Regions from separate parts of the Homo sapiens genome. Here regions 1 and 2 are each reported to be linked to region 3. The links are microRNA targets in miRTarBase. Many come from high-throughput screens and were not tested one by one. Region 3 holds a microRNA gene; each other region holds the end of a gene's coding sequence.

Region 1 (5,225 bases), not on the chromosome of region 3:
CTGATTTATTCTCAAAATAATTGTATTTACAAGGAAACATCAGTATTTCTGTAGCAGAATTAATGGTGCACAAAGTTACCTTTCCGCTTATGTATATGTATGATATTTAAAAGTTTTCTTCAGAGTCCAAATAAGTAAACAATTATCATAGAAAATGACATTTAAAATGTTGCATGAATTCTTTCTGCTTGATATGGCCAAATTAGTTTTTTCATAGCAATTGATGGAAACTATGATCATACTTCTTGATTACCTTTGCATAGTCCAAAAGAAACATTTGACTACGCCTTTTTTTTTCCTAATTTTCTTGGAGGTTCTGTGGCTATAACATCAGAGAACATTATATTGACGTTAGAATTTACTTAAAATGAAAATTATTTGGCAACCCCTGTAAATATTTTTGTTGTTGTTGAAAATGAATAAATGTGATTGTATTTGTTCTGATTGGAAATATTTTAAAAATCAGGAACAAATTAAAATTAGGAAATCTATACTTCCTCCCTAAAGAAAATCATATGGTAAACATTATGGTGAAATCAAACATATGGTAAAACCAATTTTTTCTTTCCTAGATATGCAAACATGTGTTGGTAAAAGACATAAAAATAATTGTGTTGGATCTGAGGTGATATGTTCTGAATGTAAGCACCGTCAACATCAGACACCTACTCATGGACATGTGGTTGCCGGATTTTCTTAAGATGTTTCCAGAAATGACTGATATTTTATATTTATACATTTTAGATGACAAAGCTTGATATTTATTGCTGTTGCACATTTTAAAGTTTTCTTTTTGGGTTGCTCTGTGTCAAGAGAGGTTACATGGTGTTAAATCGGTACCTGATAATGTACCCAAATACTATGGCCAGATAATAAATTGTGCTGCAAACAACATGTCTTGTATTTATAGAGGTCTCTGCATACATTTTTAGAGCTTTAGATGATTTGCTATATTTTTTATTCATGTAAAATGTAATTCCAAATAAGAAATTCTGAGTGTATATAGTCTCCAAAGCAGACCATCTGTTTCTGAAACCTTCCCCTGAGGTAGGTGAACAGCTTCCATGTGTAGATGAAATATGGCTGCCATTGATAAAGCTTGTTCTGTGTTTTCAGTGTCATGAAATCCCAGGCTCAGAGAGATATCTCTGCAGTGAATCATTGTGTAAGATACAAGAACAACACTTCTATTCAGGGATCAGGTGTCAGAGGGCCTGGGATAGCAGACAATTCATTAATTTGATTTAGAAGACTAAAAGTAGAGAAGCTTGAGAGAGGATTTTTTTTTTAAAAAAAGACTCAGATAAAAGTACAAAACCTGTTACTGTGAAAATGAACAGGGGTGATAGGAAGAAGAAATGAGACATAAGAAATAACTGATAATTCTTAGTCAACTTGCTAACTCTGTTAGCAAGTTGAATTGGTAGGAAAAACCTGAGGATGGAAACAGTGTGGAGAAATCTTAGCTGCAGATACACAGAGGGCAGAATGGAAGTGATATTGTTGAGTTATTTGAGAATAGGTCCTTTGGGACACTGAAGACTAGTTCTGCAGGTGAAATCTTTATCTTGGAAGACATTGCTCCCAGGCACATTGGGAAATCCTGGGCTGACAGCCCTTTCCTTGATCGAGAAACTTGTGATCACTTCTTAGTCTCCCTTTTCATCCTTTAGGGCCTTACATTACTCTAGTCTAGCTTTCTTCTTTTTTCTTTTCAACGTTTAAGTTTCCTTCTCCAGCCATCTCTCCCTGGATCTCCACAACTTTTCAACAGGGCCAAACTAATCCTATGAAACCTTCTGTCTTCCCAATGTCTTCTGTGCCAGCCACAGCTCTCCCTGCCTTTGCTTTCCTCATGACATTGTATCTGAGTTGCCTAAACAACTCATGTTTCCATGTACTAGCTTCCACTGCTTAGTTCAATGATTTCCATATTCCAGAGTGGTATTTCCTGTACTCTGTGCTTGGATGGGTTAACATCTGATATGGTTTGGCTGTGTCCCCACCCAAATCTCATCTTAAATCATAGTAGGAGGGACCTGGTGGGAGGTAATTGAATCATTGGGGTGGTTACCTCCATGCTGTTCTCATGATAGTGAGTGAGTTCTCAGGATATCTGATGGTTTCATAGGGGGCTTTTTCCCTTTTGCTCAGCACTTCTTCCTGCCATTATGTGAAGAAGGACGTGTTTTGCTTCCCTTTCCGCAATGATTTTAAGTTTCTTGAGGCCTCCCCAGCAATGCAGAACTGTGAGTCAATTAAACCTCTTTCCTTTAGAAATTGCTCAGCCTTGGTCAGTTCTTTATAGTAGCATGAGAATGGACTAATGCATCAACCCTCCCTGCTTGTCTAGTTCTCAATTCTGGTATCATGTCACCTGAATTCTGTTCCTGTTCTCATTTATACAGAACCACCTACTATGGGCAAGTCAGTGGCTTGTTTCTGTTTCATGGAATCTTCTAGCTATGGAGAGCTCAGGTATCAGACTTCAGAAGTAGAGCTTGGCTTGCCTTGTGCATGGAGACTTTAGTCTATGGCCACCACTAGTTAAGAGCAGATTAACTCTGCAAGGCTGGCTCCATAGACACCTCACTTTTTCCTGAGTGGTGCTGTCCTCAGTGTCTTAACACTTAAACACACCATGATATTCTGATATGCTTGATCAAAGGAAAATGTTATATTCTTTATTCAAGTAAAAATAATTGTTGGGACAATGGATAGTTGAGAAATGAGTGAGATCCTTTGTATAGAATTAAAAATTATAGTAATACACTAAGAGGATGTAAAATGAGAGTTGTCCGATGAAAAAGCTATGGACATTGAATGGTGCCTAAAGATAGAAAGGACTCAGTTGAGGGCCAAGAACATTTAGCATCTTAGATTTCCAGAAAGACTAGAAAGAGAAGCTATGAGTATGCAAAACCATTATGTCCCTTCTGAATAGCAAACTAGAAGAGAACTCATTTTCACTAAGAAAGTATATTGTATTTCCTAAATAAAGGAGACATTCTTGGCACTTTTTTGTAGGTTTTTTTTTTTTTTTTTTTTTTTTTTTTTTTGCCAAGTACAAACCAAATTAACCAGGATCTCACAGAGTGGGACTGTTGGAGGCGGCAAACCAGAGCCTGACTTTGGCTGGCAGAATGAGGCCCTGGGGCTGTGTCTGAAAGAACCAACAGAAATGTGACCACATCACTAAGTAATGGACTGGTCGTGAGGCAGAGACCCTGTTAACCAACCTGGAGACGCCACTACACACACATGTGCATGAGCACCAGTGTTCATTGGATAAACTATCTATGGAAGGTCTCTTTCACAACAGGCAGACAGCACCTTCTCTTTTTTTGAGACAAGGTCTCACACTGTTGCCCAGGCTGGAGTGTAATGGCATAATCATGGGTCACCGCAGCCTTGATCTCGTAGGCTCAAGCGATCCTCCCATCTCAGCCTCCCGAGTAGCTGGGACTACAGGCACTCACCACCACACCTGGCTATTTTTTTTCTATTTTGTAGAAATGAGGTCTTGCTGTGTTGCTAGGGCAGGAGATCCTTCTTTTGAATATGAATCAGTTCCAAAGCTCCATTTGCCACATCCTAAGGCAAAGATGGTTCTTCATTTCTTTTCAGATTTGTGTTTCTGTAGAAAAAAAAGAAACAATTAAGAACTTCCTTTGATTTTCAGTGCTAGTCAGTTTGCACACAGTGCCTGACACCTCATGTGTATTTGTTATAGGCTGAATTGTGTCCCCCAAATTCATGTGTTGAGGTCCTTAACCCCCCAATACCTCAGAATATGACTGAGTTTGGAGATAGGGCCTTTACACAAATAATTAAGTTAAAATGAGGCTAGTAGAGTGGGCACTAATCCAGTATGAGTTGTGTCCTTATAATTAGAGATTAGGACAGACATACACAGAAGGAAGACCATGGGAAAACAGAAAGAAGACTGCCATCTGCAAGCCAAAGAGAGAGAGATCTCAGAAGAAACCATCCCTGCCAAAACCTAGATCTCAGACTTCCAGCCTCCGGAACTGTGAGAAAATAATTTTCTGTTGTTTAAGCCATCTGGTCTGTGGTATTCTGTTTGGCAGCCCTCACAAACTAATGTAGTATCCGGTAAATATTTGCTGAAGTTGTTTGTTTCCTTTTCTCTTACAGACTGAATTGGAAATGGCTTTCTTTGTTGTCATGCAGGGCAGAAATCATTCTTTCCATAGGCCTTGTCAGTTGTAGAAGAGCAAAGCAGAATGTTTGTGGATTATTCTCAGCTACTCAAATTGTTCCTAGTTTCTTTTTAGTAGGATTTTGCTTGTGGAAATTTGACATTTTATTTGGCGCCACACTGGTTCACTTCTGTTTTCTCCCAATTCATTTCACATTGCAACCACATCAACTGTGTTGGAGACTGTGTTATTACAATGATTTGACCTTAGGTTGAGGTTTCTGTTGCAAAACCAGCTGAGGAGGTCCTAAATGTGGAAAGCAGATGTTTCTCTTCTGGCATGTCTTGCAGAATTATCTGGCAAGAGAATATCTTCTGTGAAAAGAATGCGTGAGAAATGTCATGCATTTGGCAATGATTAAGAAAGAAAGGTAAACCTTCAACTCCTTGTTCTTAAAAGAATTTGGCTTGTTATTTACTGGGAAGACAACTAAGATGCAAAGAGCTTTTCTGCTCTTTGCAACAAATTTCTTAAAATTTGTTTTCTTTTCTACTCTTTTGTTCTTCATAAGGCCAGAATATATTATCTCGGGGAGAGCTGATGAAAACATGACTTAGTGGCTCTTAGAGATTTAGCATACTGATGTCCAAGAAGACGTTGTTGTTTTTTAAACTATCAAAAGGCAGGCCTTCATTTGGACTGCTACAACAAAAATACCATAAACTGGGTGACGTAAACAACACTGTATTTCTGTCACCCAGTTCTGGTGGCTGGAATTTGATATCTGGGTGCCAGCATAGTCCAGTTCTTGATGAGGACTCCCTTCCTTATTTGCAGATGGCTACCTTCTTGCCCTACCCTCAAATGGGGGAGAGAGAAATCATCTCTCATGTCTCTGCTTATAAGGACACAAATACTATCACGAGGGCCTGACCCTACCTTCATGACCTAATTATCTCCCAACGCCCAACGACCCCACCTCCAAATACCATTGCAACGAGGATGAGGTTTCAGCATATTAATGGCGGGGGCACCAATATTTGATCCGTAACTATGCGAGTG
Region 2 (5,233 bases), not on the chromosome of region 3:
AGGATCACAAGGTCAAGCACAAATTTACCTATTTATGCTGTACTATCCTCAGGTTGACTGGGACAAGTAGACCATGAAACTGGGCAACAGCTACTCTATGTCTACATTCTGTTATTAGCATCCAAAGTGAATAATGGCGGTGAATTTTGAGTTTATTCTAAGGGTTTAAATAACTGCATATTTTATCATGACTGGTATGGACTGAATTGCATCCCCCCCAAAAATTCATACTGAAGCCCTCACTCCTAATGTGACTATATAAATGTTCCTTAACTTACAAAGGGGTTATGTTCCAATAAACCCACCATAAACTGAAAATACCTTAAGTTGAAAAGATCTTAAGTCAGAAATGCATTTAATGCTTCTAACCTACCAAACATCATAGCTTAGAGTAGCCTACCTAAAACATGCTCAGAATACTTACATTAGCTTTCAGTTAGGCAAAATCATCTAATACAAAGCTTATTTTTTAATAAAGTATTGAGTATTTCATGTAATCTACTAAATACTGAATGAAAAACTGGATGGTTTTATGGGTACTCAAAGTACAGATTCTAGAGTGCATATGGCTTTTGGACCATCATAAAGTCAAAAAAATCTTAAGTCAGGGACCATCTCTAGTTGGAGCTAGGCCTTTAGGGAGGTAATAAAAATTAAATTAGGTCATAAGGGTGGGGCCCTAATCCCATAAGATTAATGTCTTTATAGAAAGTGGCACCAGAGAGCTCTCTCCATTTGAGAACACAGCAAGCAGACAGACATCTGCAAGCCAGAGAGAGAGCCCTCACCCAAAACTGACCATGCTGGCACCCTCTTTTGGACCTCCCAACCTACATAACTTTGAAAAAATAAACTTCTGTTGTGTAAGCCACCCAATCTAGTATTTTATTATGGCAGCCCAAGCTAATACAATGGTTTTATTTGTTGATACATTTTATAAAGTTTACAGACTGAGATATTATATTCATTTTTGAAGAAACTTGTCCAGAGTTAAAACTGTTGCTGCAAAATCACCCATCAAACTGTTAGCACAGCGTGACTCAATTTTAATTCTAATTACATATTTAACATACGATGGAGGCAGAAGGTGTGAATATAAATACAACAGGTAAAATACAGAAATACAGTTCTTGCCTTCATGTAGCTTACCACCACCTTAAGTGGGGAAAATTAACCCAGCAAAAAGTATGCTGAAGTCATACATTTAGGGTTTTTGTTTGTTTGTTTGTTTTTTGAGATGGAGTCTCGCTTTTTTGCCCAGGTTGGAGTGCAGTGGCACCACCTCAGCTTATTGCAACCTCCACCTCCCGGGTTCAAGCAATTCTCCTGCCTCAGCCTCCCAAGTTGCTGGGACTACAGGCACACACCACCACACCTGGCTAATTTTTTGTATTTTTAGTAGAGACGGGGTTTCACAATGTTGGCCAGGCTTGTCTCAAACCCCTGACCTCAGGTGATCCACCCACCTCAGCCTCCCAAAGTGTTGGGATTACAGGCGTGAGCCACAGCACCCAGCTAGTTTATCCTCTTAATTTTCCTTCTTTAATCTTTCTCATCACTCATTCTTAACAGGAACTCTTTAAAAAAATTTAAGAAACCTCCAAAAATATATGCAAAAGAGGAGTCAAAGAAGAAAAATAAGCAAACAGCAATGAAAAAGGAAAGCATAGACTGGAAGGGCAGATAGGCAGAAAGGCATGTATGTAATTGCACTTAGAAGGGATGCAGTACATGTTTTAATGGGGTGGGAGCTGTCCCAGAGACTTCCTTTCACACAGTCTGTCTCCCCAGCTTCCAAATATAAACATGCACATGGCTGCTGCTTCCTCTCTTTCAGGGGAACTCAAACCAAAAACAGGAATCATCCTTGCTAATTAGTGCTGAGTGGATCAGGGACTAACCAGAATCAGGCAACAAGAAAATGTAAGTCAAAACTTATGATCAGCCCTGGCAACAGAGCTAGACCCTGTCTCTACAAAACAAAATTTTTTTTAATCAGCTGGGCATAGTGGCATGTGCCTGTAGTCCCAGCCACTCTGGAGGCTGAGGTGGGAGGATGGCTTGAGCCCAGGAATTTGAGGCTGCAATGAGCTATGATCACACCACATCTCAAAACAAAAACAAAACTTATCTAGGGACTACACGTGGAGCTTTGGATATGGGCAGCTAATCTGTCTATGATTAAAAACACGCAGGTGGCTTACTTTATTAATCCAAAATAAAAGAATTTGGGAACACAAGAAAGGGAAAAATGAGCCTCCATGTCAAGACCTTTCCCAGAAACCTGATAGCTTATAGTTAGAAATTGTTATAGACAGTCCAGTGCAAGGAGGACATTAAGCCACAGGGGAAAGGAGTTGTGTGGCCAGGTTAGTCAGGCAATTAACTAGAAAAAATCTGTCCACATAGAGGAGCCTGCATAATAAAAAGGTATTAAACGATAGTAGAATATTGCTAGAGCAGAAGATAGCTAGAAATATAATCAATAACCAGGTTATGGAAGTCAGGCACCTTAGAGTTTATCCTATAGGCAATGAGAAGCCATTCAAAGGGTTTTTGTTTTTGTTTTCAGCACTTTAAAGATGTCATTCTCGTTTTCCAGCCTCCATTATATCTGTGAGAAACTAGTTGTAATTCTTATCATTGTTTTCTTGTATGTCTTATGCCTTTTTCTATGAATGCTTTTAAGATTTTGTTTATATTTATCAAAAGTTAACACTGATGTTTCTAGGTGTCTTTTTCTATGAATGCTTATAAGATTTTCATTATATTTATCAAAAGTTACACTGTGATGTTTCATTACACTGTGATGTTTCATTACACTGTGATGTTTGTTTTGGTTTTGGTTTTGTATTTATCCTGCTTGGGGTTCATTTCATTCCCTGGGTCTGTGGATTGCTGGTTTCTCATTTTCTTTTCTTTTCTTTTTTTTTTTTTATCAAATTTGGAAGACTTTTGTCCAGTATTTCTTCAAATTTTTTTTTCTGTCCCATTCTGTTTCTCCTCTTCTTCTGGGACTACAATTACACTCATGCTAGACTTCTCAGTACTTAGTACAGGTCATTCAGGCTCTGTTCATTCTTTTTTCAGTTTGTATAATTTCTATTGAGAGCCACTGTCTAGTAATCCCTGAAAAAATCTAAATGTTGACATTTTCCCAAAGCACAGTACCCTGCTGATGGCTGTAGTTTCCTTTGGGGAAGGTTTAGAGATATGTTAGTCAGGAAATCAGAAATTAGATGATATTACTACAGAGAGGATTTAGTATTGAGTTTTCATTGACTGAAAAAGCAAAAACGGAACACTGAGGTTACCCAGAGGTGATAACTGCAGGGAGCAGCTGTCAATGATAGATCTAGTGAAAATGGGGACTCAAGGTGGATTATCAGGTCTCAGAAACTCAGACAAATGACCTGGCTGAGTATTGCTCAGACCCCTGAGAGGATGCTGTCTGGCTGATCCTACTACTTCAGGGAAGGATATGATGAGGCTAGTTGTGGATGGGGAGGATGTCAAAAGAAGCTCAAGGCTGAAATCAATTGCTGCTGCTGGAGCAAAGGGCTCTTGCTTGTTGCTGGGATAACAGTGACAGAAACTGCAAACAAATGGAAAGGAGGAAGTCCCTTCTTCCCTTCTGCCTTCCAGTCTCCCTCTAATGCCCTTTATTGATGGAACCTAGTGAGACACCAGCTGACATAGAAAAAAATGTAGTTTGCAGGGTTTGAGCCACAGCATTACAGAGAAATGTATAGAAGGGGGAATGTGGACCTGAGACAATAGTTTAATAAACAGTACCATATCATTTATTTGTGCTAAATTGGTAAGAATGGCCAAAATTAGACTTAATGCCATCATATGTGCTTTTACAGACTTTTAGACCTTTTTGAAAAGAATCTCAGGATACCATGTCAATTTTCTGCTACATTATGATTACTGTTGGTGCCTTTTTCAGGAGTAAGGAGTACTTTTACTGCAGCTCACACATACACTAGCCACAAAATCATAAACAAGGGCAGCCTTGGAAGAGATCTACATAACTGAGGATAAGCAGACCCTACCCCAACGTTAGGTCTCCAAACATCAGGGACAAAATGGCATGGGCTAGGTAGGACTGGCAAGAATCCACACTTCTCCCTATTTCTATTTCCTATGTATCGCCTAATGTGCTCATAATAAGGAGAAAACCAATTTCCTGTTCTAACTTTGGACAGCCACCCATTGTCATTAAAAAACCACTTATTTTCCCTTCTTTCCTCTTTTCTTGCCTCAACCCAGGCTCCTTTACCCAGCCCTATGACTTCTAGTTTTCTAATGCAAGTAGATGACAAAACAGGGTTTGGTGTTCAACATTTCACCTTATAGTGTATTTTTCACAAATGAAGGAGTTTTGTTGAACATTTGTAGAACATTTCTAATTTTTGAACTTCAGTTCCATCTGAAAGGGGTCATTTCTTTGAGTCTTCTATTATTTAGTAATAGCAGTTAACATTCTCCTTCTACTACAATTTACCTGGAAAGACACCCATAAATACCAATAAAGATACCAGATTCATAACGTATTTCATATATTTAATATTTGTATTTGAATATATTAGACTAGAATAAATTTTCTGCATTTGTATATATTATATATTTTATAGCACTCTGTCAGTTATATAACACAAAAGACATTCATAGGTAAACATTAAAATGGCAGTATACATAATAACTGAACATTAATGAGACAATAATAATCAGGTATTCATTTAATGGGAGAGTCTAGTATTTCCTGGTAGTCCTGCTTTCTTAAATTCCTCCAGTAAAGTTTATAGCCAGCAAGGACAAAAACACTAATCATAATGATTACCCCTCCAAAAACATCATAGATGCTAGGAAATATGTGCAGCACGAGAAGCTGCAAGACCATAGCTACCACAATCTCCAAATGTTGTACTGTGCTAACCAAAGCTGGATGGAATTTGTCCAAGGCATAATAAACTCCTAAGAATGCTGCAGTAGAACAGACACATATAGCAATGAGATAACTCCAGGTTTCTCCATCTAATGGGATGATGGGTTCTTGAAGAATAAACATAGTAGATATTCCCCAAATTGTCCCAGTCCAACCAAAAGTAAACAGTGCAGTCCACATGCTGATCTTCTCCTTGATGGATCTGTATACTATCATTGAGAGAGCAGTGGTCAGTCCAGCCATCACAGTCATGGTGTACCCAAAGGCTTCTTTCCAGGCATT
Region 3 (5,233 bases):
GTTTATCTGGGAAGACTTGCTTTAGATATAAAAGGTGAACATTTCCCTCTTAGACTTACATCCCTTATTTCCAACTTGCTATTTAATTTGGATAAAGTTCTTGGTTATTTTACATGTGCTGTTGAATATCTTCAAAACCAAATGGGTTCACTTTCAAAATAGTAAAATGTAAATTTGTTCTCTTAACACTCAGCCTCACAACATTCATACTGTAACATTTTATGTTATTTAATATGGCTTTTAAAACTTACATTAGTAATGTGCTAATGAGACCTTACAGGCTTTAATTCATTACAGAAGATGCAATAAAGACTAATATGAGTAGAGCTTCCTAGGCAACCAGGAATCAGATTTTTTTCTAATGTAAGAAAACTGGTCAATTTTCTACTCTATTGATGTTTGCCATTACAGTAATGAAGCAGGTTACATTTTCTTTGTAATAAGATGATTAATTTGGTTATTGACTTTCTGTTTCAATTTCATGTTTCATTTAAATGATTTGAAAATACAGGTTCTGTATTTTTCCACTACATGCTTGGGTCAGATGTAAAACATTTATTCTATTTGGTTCCCAACTTTAATATCGGAGAGGAATTTTTTTGTTTTTTTCATACTTAGAAGCCATTACACAGATAAAATTATCAATTGAGATTAATAGCATAGAATGTCACCCAATACAAAGGGAACTGGGTATTCATCTCAAAACTTGAATTTGAATGTGGAATCATACAGATAGAAAAATTCTGAGACAGCAGAAGAACAAAAAGTCATCATCTTTTTGTGTGAGTCACTTTCTCCTGAGACCATACCCTACATTTTGGAGGCAGATTGTTTTTTTCAAGCCAGTTACTTTATAGAGATGGGAGAGTGTAGAACTTCAAAATGCCAATGCACATGACCTTCTGATTATATGGACTTGTATAGTTTTCTGAATGTAGGTCTTATACTTCCATAAATTGATGGTTCCTCGAGAACAGATGGCATATTTTATACATCTTTGTATGATACCTAGCAAAGAGCCCTGCACAAAGTAGGTGAATAACAAATGTCTCTGTTAAATAAAGTACCATGAGAAGCATAGATGAGAGAGAGGTAAGGAATGAGGTAAGAGGTTCCAAGGACATGTCTATAAGTAGGTACTTATATTTGTTGTGTACTTTATTTTTATTGAAAGACCCTCTCTAAATCCAAATAGTCATCTACTCAGGTCTGTGGGATACAACAATTCCCCGATTACTTGGCTTAACATTCCTTCCTGCAGAGCCACTATAGGGGTAAATCAGGGATGGTCAAGAGGATTCATTCCTTATACCAACCAGTTATGTAGAATTGGTGGTGATCCCTTGGGCTGCAGTATGGAGAAAGCAGCTCAGACTATTCCTGAGCCCAGTGAAAAAGAGGACAAGATGGCCATCTATGAGCTGGATAATCAAGACAGTCCTGTCTGCTTGGTAGCACGACCCTTCTCCAAGATTTGCCCCTCATCCTTCTTTCAAAGCCCAGATCAAATTCTGCCTCTTCAAGATGGCTTTTCAGATCCCCACCTTCAAGCTAGCACCCTCCCTTTCCTGCTTGTATAGCAAACTATTCTAGCCTTTATTCTCATATTTGTCATAGTCTCCTCATCCATCTATTTCTCTCTACCTACCTAGTTATTCATGTCAATTCCACTAGAGTAGTTTCTCGTGGGGAGGCAGGGATAATCTCTTTCACTTTTCTGTCTCCTATGTGCCCAGTATAAATGGGCTTTACTTATAGGATACGCTTCATAAATGACAATGAAGGAAACTGAACAGCAGACTGATTGATGGAAGGTCACCCAACAGATCATTACAGTGATAAGAGAAAACTGATGGTATGTTAGAGAAGTAGAATGTTCTGTCACTGCAGATTGACCCTGATCTACAGCTAGGGAAGAACTGTATGGGATTCCACAGACAATGAGTATCAATGGCACAAACTCATTCTTGAATTTTTGCCAGTTCAAGAAGAGACTGAGTCATCGAATGCTCTAAATGTCACTTCACCTCATGTTCTGTCAACACAGAGGGTAACTCAGAGTGGCCAGTTCCACTCAACCATCCAAGAAAACAAAACAAGAAAAGCAGACATTAAAAGAGGGCAGTGTTCTGCACTTCACAGGTCTGTGACCTTGGCCAAATTACTTAACCTCTGTAAGCCTTAATTTCTTCTTCCTGTGTAACATGGAGATGATGGTATCTACTTACAGGCAAGAGTTGAGATAATATATGCAAAATTCTTGGCATGGTAGAATATTAATTGAACTATGAAGATGATTGTATCCACTATTCCCTTTTCCCTTCTTGGCTATTTCATTTCCATTCATGTTACTTTGTTTTATATATACACTGCTTTACTGTGTATGAGAAAAATGACTGTCCACTGGTAGAAATATAGCCTGAGGTTTTTTTTGTTTTTAATTCTCTCTCTCTCTTTTTTTTTTTTTTTTTTTTTGAGATAGAGTCTCACTGGAGTGCAGTGGTATAATCTTGGCTCACTGCAACCTCTGCCTCCCGGGTTCAAGTGATCCTCCCACCTCAGCCTCCCAAGTAGCTAATACTACATGTGTGTACCACCATGCCTGGCTAATTTTTTGTATGTTCAGTAGAGACAGGGTTTTACCATGTTTCCCAGGCTTGTCTGGAACTCCTGACCTCGGGTAATCCACCTGGCTTGGCCTCCCATGGTGCTGGGATTACAGGCACAAGCCACCGTGCTGGGCCTTTTTTAAATTATCTAACCCTAGCCCCTGAATTTTTAAAACCACCATGGAACATCACTGGAATGAAAATGGAGACCATGTGACTTCTTCAGCTTTCCAAAGAAAACAGGTTTACTGATTATACGCAGCTAGAATGGTTGGCATAATTGTTATGAATGACAAACCCTTCAATTCATTGATGTGTATGAGTCAGTGATGTTGGGATAAATGTCTTTGGATACACATTACACAGTGCTCCCAGATGTTTATATTCCTTCCCACTCCCTAACCTAATCCTAAAATATTAGCTCTCTAGACAAGAGCATAAACTGAAAACTCATATTTGCTCTTAGGACTCTTTACAATCATTTTCACATGTGATTATCTTGGTGTGTACATAGAGTGGCCATCTTTGTTTACAATGAAGACGCGAAAGCCCAAAGGTTGGCTAATGTAACCATGGAAACCAAGCTAATAAATGGTCAAATCTGTACCAAGAATAATTCTAGAGACTTCAGTTGCTTCAGAGATGGATGAGGTAGGAGTTTTTCTCAGAGGGATGCAGGTCTGTCTGTGGTCGCTTAGTTGGGTTGATTCCCACATAGTATTAATGAGCATATGGAAAGATAACAAAAGCAGCTAACACTTATTGAATACTAAAGTCTGAAGTAGCGTGCCAAGTACTTTCAGGCATTATCTCTAATCCTTATCACAAGTATATGAGGTAGGTACTATTATTAGACCCACTTTCTAAATGAGAAAATAAGCTTGGACTAGTAAGTAATTTGTTTAAGGTCATTCAACTAACAAGTGGCAAAGGATAAAAGTTAAATTTAAGTTTACCTGACTCCCAAGTTCATATTCTTTTTTTTTGAGATGAAGTTTTGCTCTGTTACCCAGGCTGGAGTGCAGTGGTGCAATCTCAGCTCACTGGAACCTCCGCCCCCCGAGTTCAAGTGATTCTCCTGTCTCAGCCTCTTGAGTAGCTGGGATTACAGGTGCATGCCACCATGCCCGGCTAATTTTTGTATTTTTAGTAGAGACAGGCTTTCACCATGTTGATCAGGCTGGTCTCGAACTCCTGACCTCGTGATCCACCTGCCCCAGCTTCCCAAAGGCGTGAGCCACCGCGCCCATCCCCAAGTTCATATTCTTAACTAACACAGACATTGCTTCTATCTCTTAGTCACCTAACATTGACTCTTTCTGTTTCATGACCAGATCTTATACTCTGATTTTTCCCCTGCTTTTGAAGAAATAAAGGTGGGAGGCAGTGGAATGGGGAAGACAGGGAGAGGAAGAGGTTGGGGAGGGAGGGATGGCTCATTCAGTGATTGTGTGCCATCTATATTCATTCATTCCTACTATGTGCCAGGCATCACACTAGATGCCAGGTCTCAGCTGTGATAAAAAATAACTTTCTTGTTCTTATGAGGCTAAATGCCCCAGGGTCCTACACCCACTTCTCCTAGTCAGTCAAATGTGTGTGGGCTTTTGAGGGGACAAGGGTGCCATGCTGTGGTATCACCCAAAGCTTTCTCTAGATAAGTGGATGTGAGAAAACCCAACAGCTGAGAGCAGCTCAGAGAATGTTTATGGAAATATGTAACTGTTTCTCTTAAAGCCAATCCTGAGTCCCCTGTTTTGACTTTGGGTACGTATAATGTACTACATACTCCCTTCCCTCTGTGTGAAGCAGATCATATTGCAGCCCTGAAGTTATGTGTGGCTGTAGTGAAGCAGCAGGCATAACACTCTGCTGTTGGCTGGTAACTGTTTCCAATAACAGACAAGCTGCATCAATGCAGGGTTTGGAATGCAACGTAGGACATAGCTAGGGGCCTCCTTGTTTTCTGTCACTAGGGTGGAGGGGGCCCTAAGGCAGGGCCTGGGTGGGCCTCTCTTCCTAATAACTCTTCTAATGAATCTCATAGCTGTCCTGGGAATTAGTTCTACCTTCTTCCTATCCATGGTAGGATTGATTTCCTTAATAGCCAGTGACTGCCTGTCATTAAGAGCTCTGGGACAGGGAAGAATGGGGACAACCACAGACCTCCTCCCTGCAAAATATGTTCAGTGATTGTGACTCACTGCATCATCTGGCCCCATAGAGCAATTTTCCAAATATTTCTCCTCAACATCTCTTTCCATCAAACTAAAATGTCAATTTTTTTTTAAAGCTCTGATTAAAGGATAAACAGTTTCATAATGGGATTTGAAAGCCTGGGCAATCATATCATTAAAAAAAAATTGGCTGCCAAGCAGCTTGCTCAAATGACACCAGGCACATTGCCTAGTGAACTTTAGGTGAATAGGCGATGGAGTCTGTCTGGGCCTGATTTGCAGAGACTTCTTAAAGAAGGGAATCTGCTGCAGGCATGCAAACTACAGCAAGACTGAGCTGTGCATGGCTAGTTTTAGGGAAGGCTCCAGCTTGGGGAGCTTGGAAGGTGGTCTTTATCAGCCTGCCAAGATATCTGTGTGGAATCACGCCCACCATTTCTTCTCCCA

Evidence for each region. Region 3 holds the annotated microRNA hsa-miR-5197-5p (CAAUGGCACAAACUCAUUCUUGA, at 1,949-1,971, shown strand). A microRNA usually pairs through its seed, bases 2 to 8, with sites in the 3' UTR of a target mRNA and lowers its output. Matches are read on the target gene's strand: a 7mer-m8 pairs with bases 2 to 8, a 7mer-A1 pairs with bases 2 to 7 and ends in A, and an 8mer does both.
Region 1: the mRNA of STAMBPL1 is a reported target of hsa-miR-5197-5p. The part of its 3' UTR that is shown has no 7-base or 8-base seed match.
Region 2: the mRNA of SLC35G2 is a reported target of hsa-miR-5197-5p. Seed matches in the 3' UTR shown: 7mer-m8 at 4,689-4,695.

What each region holds. Positions count from the first base shown.
Region 1 is chr10:88,922,596-88,927,820 of GRCh38, forward strand. STAMBPL1 (STAM binding protein like 1) reads left to right here. Exons shown (of 11, transcript NM_020799.4): 11 at 573-892. The coding sequence ends at 629. Among named protein-coding and RNA genes, the nearest start is that of ACTA2-AS1, 7.5 kb to the right of the region's middle.
Region 2 is chr3:136,855,208-136,860,440 of GRCh38, reverse strand. It overlaps SLC35G2 (solute carrier family 35 member G2), which reads right to left. Exons shown (of 2, transcript NM_025246.3): 2 at 4,553-5,233. The coding sequence ends at 4,742. All of the region lies in intron 1 of NCK1-DT (NCK1 divergent transcript), which reads left to right. Among named protein-coding and RNA genes, the nearest start is that of NCK1-DT, 4.2 kb to the left of the region's middle.
Region 3 is chr5:143,677,938-143,683,170 of GRCh38, forward strand. MIR5197 (microRNA 5197) reads left to right here and starts at 1,923; the gene lies at 1,923-2,034.